Linked DNA regions of Homo sapiens. The protein of the gene in region 1 purifies or fractionates together with the protein of each later gene. This does not show direct contact. Each region holds a gene or a part of one and is shown on either strand. Other genes may lie near its edges. The genes, in order: PTGES3L-AARSD1 and SEPTIN8.

Evidence for each region.
Region 2: the proteins of PTGES3L-AARSD1 (region 1) and SEPTIN8 fractionate together in Homo sapiens (co-fractionation; one large-scale study listed by BioGRID). This does not show direct contact.

Annotation. Positions count from the first base shown.
Region 1 is NC_000017.11:42,966,806-42,970,623, forward strand, and holds part of PTGES3L-AARSD1 (PTGES3L-AARSD1 protein), read right to left. Parts: intron 3,538-3,818; coding exon 3,484-3,537; intron 2,382-3,483; coding exon of another isoform or gene 2,343-2,381; exon of another isoform or gene 1,298-2,342; intron 1-1,297. Other genes in the region: putative protein PTGES3L, read right to left, coding at 2,343-2,381, 3,484-3,537. UniProt on the Homo sapiens protein: Functions in trans to edit the amino acid moiety from incorrectly charged tRNA(Ala).
Region 2 is NC_000005.10:132,770,700-132,774,517, reverse strand, and holds part of SEPTIN8 (septin-8), read left to right. Parts: intron 1-3,818. UniProt on the Homo sapiens protein: Filament-forming cytoskeletal GTPase. May play a role in platelet secretion. Seems to participate in the process of SNARE complex formation in synaptic vesicles.

The DNA.
Region 1 (3,818 bases):
CACAACACATCTGCTAATTAAGTTTTAACATACTGCATGTAAGTAATATATACTATATGTTTATGTTCCATGTTATATATTGTTTTGTATGTTATATAATTATACCTTAGAACTACATAGTATAAAATAAATTATAGGTATTATAGTATTTATAATGCAGTATGGGGCCAGGGATGGTGGCTCAGGCCTGTAATCCCAGCACTTTGGGAGGCCGAGGAAGGAGGCTTAAGGCCAGGAGTTTGAGAGCAGCCTGGGCAACAAGCAAATCTTTACAAAAAAATAGTTTGTCCTAAAGACAAGGTCTTTACATATATATAAAATATATATTATATAATATATAATATAATATATAAAATATATATTATATAATATATAATATAATATATAAAATATATATTATATAATATATAATATAATATATAAAATATATATTATATAATATATAATATAATATATAAAATATATATTATATAATATATAATATAATATATAAAATATATATTATATAATATATAATATAATATATAAAATATATATTATATAATATATAATATAATATATAAAATATATATTATATAATATATAATATAATATATAATATATAAATATATATGTATTTATATATGTAGATATATAATATATAAAATATATATAATATGTATCATATATAATTTATATATTATATATTTTAAATATATAATTTATATATAATATATAAAATTAATATATATAATATATATTTTATATATAAAATTAATATATAATATATATATATTTTATAGAGCGAGACGGAGTTTCGCTCTTGTTGCCCTGGCTGGAGTGCAATGGTGTGATCTCGGCTCACAGCAACCTCCACCTCCTGGATTCAAGCCATTCTCCTGCCTCAGCCTCTGAAGCAGCTGGGATTACAGGCATGAGCCACCACGCCTGACTAATTTTGTATTTTTAGTGGAGACAGGGTTTCTCCATGTTGGTCAGGCTGGTCTCGAACTCCTGACCTCAGGTGATCCACCCACCTCAGCCTCCCAAAGTGTTGGGATTACAAGCATAAGCCACCGCACCTAGCCTACAAAAATATTTTTTAACTTAGTCAGCTGTAGTGTAGTCCTAGCTACCCAGGAGGCTGAGGCAGGAGGATTACTTGAGCCCAGGAAGTCAGGGCTCCATGAATAATGAATGTACCACTGTATTCCAGCCTGGGCAACAAAGCAAGACTCTATCTCAAACATAAATAAATAAATAAAGTTTACTTTTAAAGTAAATCCTAATAGTTTACCATGAGTTCAAGAGCAAAGTCTATAGGCAATGCATTTATTTTGTTTAAGTTACAGTCAACTGTACATATTAGGCACTCAAAAAAGTTTATGGACAAATAGAATAGCTGTTGGACAAATAAACATAGACATTAACTAGAGTAACAATCAGTTTTAAAAGTATAAAGAGGGCCGGGTGTGGTGGCTCATACATGTAATCCTAGCACTTTGGGAGGCTGAGGTGGGTGGATTACTTGAGGTCAGGAGTTCGAGACCAGCCTGGCCAACATGGTGAAACCCCATCTCTGCTAAAAATACAAAAATTAGCTGGGCCTGGTGGTGCACATCTGTAGTCCCATCTACTTGGGAGGCTGAGGCAGGAGAATTGCTTGAACCCAGAAGGTGGAGGTTGCAGTGAACAGAGACTGCACCACTGCACTCCAGCCTGGGCGACAGAGCAAGACTCCATCTCGGAAAAAAAAAAAAAAAGTATAAAGAGATTTCTAGAGTGTGCAGGAAGCTGAAGTGGCTGGTTCTAGAGATGACAGAATTAGCTGTAAGAAATCAGAGCACAAATCTGGGCAAGAGGAAGCACCCCAGCTTGGTTACTAGAGGGAGAAGAGGCTTGCCACCAGGAGGAATAAGTACAAGAAGGAAACAGACAGAGAACAGTTCCTAGAGATTTATTATAATCTGTTTCTTCTTTGGCTTTTTGCTTTGCCCCATATGCACACATAGTAGAGATTTCTATAATCTGCATTCTTCTTTGGCTTTTGTTTTGCCACATACACACACATACTCAAATAATCAAGTGGCCTAAACACAGAGATTAGAAACCAATCAGTAAGAAATCAGAAGCCCTACCAGTCTACCCCTCCCCGACCCTGCATCTGATGTGGAGCCATAGTCAAGTGCCTAGGAGGAAGACAAGCTTGAAGGACGACCCTTAATAAAGAGCTTCTAGGAAAGTTCAGAGATCTCAGAAGAACTTGGTGCACAGCCAAAGCGCTGACAAAGGCCTAGGCGCTAGCTTTCTAGAACAACTGGAAAATAGCCACAGCTGCCTTCCCAGCTTTGCGTCACAGAAAGTTAATTACTTGTTGCATCATCAGCACTGTCAGAATCATCCTGGGGGCGGGGGGGAAAAAAGACAAAGCACCTGTAGACCCTGCAAAGCAGGAACATTTGTGTTAACAAATACTGCTTCCTCTCTCCTGTTCTCCAAGTTTCTTTTTGTGATTTCCTAAACCACCCAACTTAGGGGGCTAATATGAAAGGTTTTAACTTACTTTGGATGTTAAGTAAACCAACACTACTTTGTCATACATCATTAGTTTCAGGACTTTTTTTTTTTTTTTTTTTTTTTTTGAGACAGGGTCTTGCTTCATCACCCAGCTGCAGTGCAGTGGCATGATCTCAGCTCAGTGCAACCTCTGCCTCACAGTCTCAAGCGATCCTCCCACCTCAGCCACTTGAGTAGCTGGGATTATAGGCTACTGTGCCTGGCTAATTTTTGTACTTTTGGTAGAGACAGGGTTTTGCCCTGTTGCCCAGGCTGGTCTCAAACTGCTGAGCACAAGTGATCCACCTGCCTTGGCCTCTCAAAGTGCTGGGATTACAGGCGTGAGCCACCACACCCACCCTAGTTTCAGAATTTTAATTAATGCTATTGCTCCTTACAGCTGGGGTAGGTCTTCTCTAGGATGGAGAAACAGAGGGGTAGATGGAAAGCAGGAGGGTCTTGCTAGGGTTTTCTAAAGCCTGGAGAAGAATATTAGCCTTCTTGGGCCAGGCGTGGTGGCTCACGCCTGTAATCCCAATACTTTGGGAGGCCGAGGCGGGTGGATCACCTCAGGCCAGGAGTTCGAGACCAGCCTGGCTAACATGGCAAAACCCTGTCTCTACTAAAAATACAAAAATTAGCTGGGCGTGGTGGCAGGCACCTATATTCCCAGCTACTCAGGAGTCTGAGGCAGGAGAATCTCTTGAACCCAGGAGGCAGAGGTTGCAGTGAGCCAAGATCGGGCCACTGCACTCCAACCTGGGCGAAAGAGTGAAACTCCTCCCCCACCCCCCAAAAAAAGAATATTAGCCCTCTTGGGTCAAACTCAAATTTGGTTAACAGGCACTGAGAACTACTGTGTGCTAGGAACTGGGATAGGAGCTCTCTAGTGGGTTGTTTTTAAGGGCTACAAAGAAACTGAAGGGTTGAGGGGAAGGCTTTACTTACATCCAAATCATCCATGGCAGGTGGAGGTCTCTTGGTGCTGACCTTCTTCAAAAGCTAGTGGGAAGAAAAAATAATCACAAGGGAGAAGGGAGTGAAGGAAGAACAATCTGCACATTGATGGTCCATAGAAGAATGGTTGCAGCCAGAACTGGTCAGGCAACTGCTCCCATCTTTAAAACATCACTGGAATTAATTTGAGAAAAGTAAATTGATCCCCTTCTTAAAAGAAAATTTAACACAAATCCAGATTGGAGTCGGCTAGTGTTTTTATAACTGAAACCAAATAATATAACGACAGTGTGTGATTTACTGGGGGCCAATTATTTATGATGTGA
Region 2 (3,818 bases), on another chromosome or scaffold:
AGCAGCCCTCTGAGGAGGGTGTGTTGCCTCTTGCCTTCCTCGGGCAGCCAGATTCCTGTCCACTCTTGCTGTGCCCCTCCTCCTAACTGGAACCTTGACTCTGGGGCTCAGCCCTTTCTTCCCCGAGGGCCAGCTCCGGTGTTTTCTCCTGCCAGAATCTCACAGGTTCAGACCCCGTGGTGAGCAACCCTTTAGGGCTTGGGGAAAGTGAAGCTGAGGGGGAGAGGAAGAAACGTGCAGCACACAGCCTCACACTGGCGTTCTTCCCAGCCAGTCACTTACCCCCATCTCTGCTTTATCCCCAGCACCATCTGTCACTTCCGTTGTCACCCCTGCAATCTTGATACTTCCCCAAGAAGCGGGCTCTTCAGGGAGTACCTAGTCCCTCCTGAAGCAGGAATTGAGAGCCCGCACCCAAATGAGGCTCAAGGTCTCTGTCAGAGTGATATCTCCCCATCTTGTAAAAACGGCCAGTAGCCTCCTTGCTGAGCCATGCCGAAGAAAAACGGGAGCTGAGCAAGAGATGCCCGTGCAGCTCCCAGGGCACATGTGAGCACCACCTGCAGAGCTGCAGCTCTGCCCTCTCCCCCAGGAGGTGAGTCTGCCTGCCCTCCCTCTCTCTTGGGCATCAGACCATGCTATGTGTGCCCACCTTAGGAAGGTCTCCTTGGGGTCTTGATTGCAGTGGGTCAGAGCTGCGGGGCTGATGGAAAGCATTGGTCATTCCAGGGAGCACATGCTAAAAGACTGACCATGATAGGAACAGAGAGGATGGCAAGGAGGAGACCAAGCTCAGGGCCAAGGAGGAGGGAGACTGGATGGAGCCTGGGAACCCAGGGTCTGACTTGTGTCAAAAACCTTGGATGGCAAGGAGGGCAGTGGGTGCTTTGAGCGCATTATCTTGTTGATGCCAACAGCCCAAGGTTGGGTGAGGATGCAGACTTTGGTCATTGGCTAGCAAAGGTAGGGGGAACAAGATCCAAATTCCAATACCAGAGATGACAGAGAGGGTGGATACCTTGGCGTTTTGAGCCCTCGGATGGGCTAGGTGGAAGCATATATTATATTTGGGGCAGTAACTACCACGAATGTCTCTGTGGCTCAAGTCCAGCTACCAGAGGCGAGCAGCTGCAGGATGGTAGAGCAAAGGGCCTGAGGGCCAGCTGGCCTCTGTGTGTCCCTTGCAGCCTCCCCAGCCTTCCTGCCTCTGTGCTGCCAGCTTGGGTTTCAGGATCCCCAGGCATGGCCCCCAAGGCAAAAGCTTTGCCAGATAACCAGATGCAGAGCTATGCATGCAGGAGGGAGACACATCTGCCTGGGGAGGAGACGCCCTCCCAAGGTCTCCATGCCCTTGTGGTAGAGCTGGGGCACTCTGTTGGCTTCTTTTGGAGCCATCTGAACCTTCAGAGCTCCTGAAAGAACTGGCTGGGAAGAGGCAGCGGAGGACGGGGCAGGGGGCATCTTGGCTCTGCGTGCAGTTGCCCTACATGTTCTTGGGGCAAATTAGATATTCTCCTCAGGATACACGGCTTTCAGGTGTTCCCTATCCTAGAGGTCAGATTAGAGGGACAGAACCAGCAGAGGAAGGTACAGGGGCCCATGTCTGCTGGCAGGTGGCTGGCTGTTTTCTGAGGGGGCTCCAGGGCTTGGGCTGCCTGATGCTTGGGGTTCAGGAGGGGCTGTGGGTATGGACCCAAGCCCACTTGCCAGACATGGCTCTTGGGCCTGGGTACAAACCTGACATTCTGCCTGGTGTTGGAGTGAATGGACAAGCAGCAGAGAAGTATAGCAGTGCCACCCCCATACCTCTGCCAACCCGTATTGGTGCCCATGCATTCCTCCGTCCCTTTCCAGCACTGGCATCCATCGTGGGGTTGGACAGAAGGCGGGGCACCTTTGCTGCCCACATTCTCCCTCCAAGGGTTTCATTTGCTGTGAAACAGAGGCTGCCTTCTCCTGCCAGTGATACCCAGACCACTCGTGGCTTTCCCTGTTACAAGGCAGTGGTGGCTGCCACTGGAGTCCCTGAGCTAAGTAAGAAAATATGAATGCCTGGAGTTCTAGTACATTCTGCAGCCCAGAGCACCTTCCCCATCTCCTCTGTGGTGGGATAGACCACTCCCTCTCAGGCAGCACAATAAAGGCCAAGAATGTGTCTGTCCTAGGCCTGGGGGTTGGGGTGGCGAGTACTGGCCCAGCTACCAGTAACTGTGCTCTTAGCTTCCTGGAAATCTGATTTTGATGGGAAAAGCTTGAAACACACTATCCCAAATTAATAAGCTCCAGCCTGGCTGGCTGTGTGCAGAAAGGAAAGACAGTGCCTCTTAGTGAGACAGAGAAACAGAGAGAATGGAGTATTGGGGTCAGGGGATGGTTTTGCTCCCAAAATTCCTTCTCTTCCCAGGATGGGTGGAGTAGGACTGGCCTTGTGAGGATGATTGGCTTCCTGTTACCTTGACTGCCGTCATGTTGGGACCATGGCGGGTGATCCTTGCTTGAATCTTCTCTCAAGTTTTCTGTTGCCACTGTAGGAGAAAGATGCTTTGGCTCCCAGGTGTCCTCTTGATTTGGGACAGGTATATCCTGCCTCTATTCTTCCTTCCTGGCCCCGGGTAGCAGCATCCCACCCCCACCCTCCCACGTATGTCTCCTTGGTTATTTCCCGTAACCTCTGACCTGGGCTTAGAGGCTTGCTGTGGAATCCTGGGACCAGAGCCGAAGCCTTTCCTGGGAAAATTCCTAGGATTCCTCTCAGGCTCAAGGACAGTTGTGCTTATGACCGCGACCACGGGTTCTGGCTAGAGGCCTCTGCTCTGGCTATTTAAGGCCCAGGCTCCTGGGAGGAGCTGGAGCCGGGGCTAGCATAGTTTGTGCCAGGAACATGGGTGGAGAAAGCTTCCAGTGGTCCATTGACTCCTGAGTCCATTGCTCAGTTACTTAATAGGGCCACCCCCAGGGCTGGAGCTCCCCTGGGGAGTGGGCTTCCTGTCTGCCTGACTGGGTGTACAGGTGAGTGGGTGCTAGGCATGGGAGCCCAGAGGAAGAAAAGCATCCAAAGTCCAAGGCACTGGAGAACTCTGGAAGGCCTGAGGTCTGGGGGCTGCTCTTTGTCCATTACTCGGTAGCCAATCCACCTATGGTGGGGTATCCTTTCTACTCCCACTGCAACAACCAGCCTAGTTTGGGGGTTTGGATCACAGGGGTCTTTATTTACCCACAGCTTCCCCGGCTCTGTTGGTTTAGAGATTCAGTAGATTTCCAGTTCCTTCTGGATAAAAACCTGTTTTTGTGTGTTGGCAACCATGAGATGCAGTTTCTTCCCAGATCCCACCTTGTTTCATGGTAAAAGGGACAGCTCCTCTTGGCTGGTGATGAGGGCTGCTCTAGGAGGCTCAGACAGAGCATTTCCTATCAGGAAAAGGGCGTCCTAGTTATCCACTGGGCTGCGTAACAAAATGCTGTTCTCTACTTTGTCTTGGACGGCCGGGCATGGAGGCACGCAGCCGGCCTGAGAAGTTATTGTTTTGGTTGTTGTCTTTGATGTGCCAAAGAAATGATGACACAGAAGCCTGGGGCCTGGCTCAGGAGCCAAAAGCTTGTTAGTGATTAGAGAGGGGATAATGGCCCCATGGAGTTTCTCATTGCATATGTAGAGCTCAGAGCTGCCAACTCCCTCTATCCTGGGACTTTGAAGACATATACAACGCTCACCCCTGTGTGAGCACCTCAGGGAGCTGGGTGTGTGGAATGAGCCAGAGGCTTTGGGTCCACCTCTCTCTGGGGTCCAAGTTAAGTTGTCCTGCCTGAAGGCTCCTCCC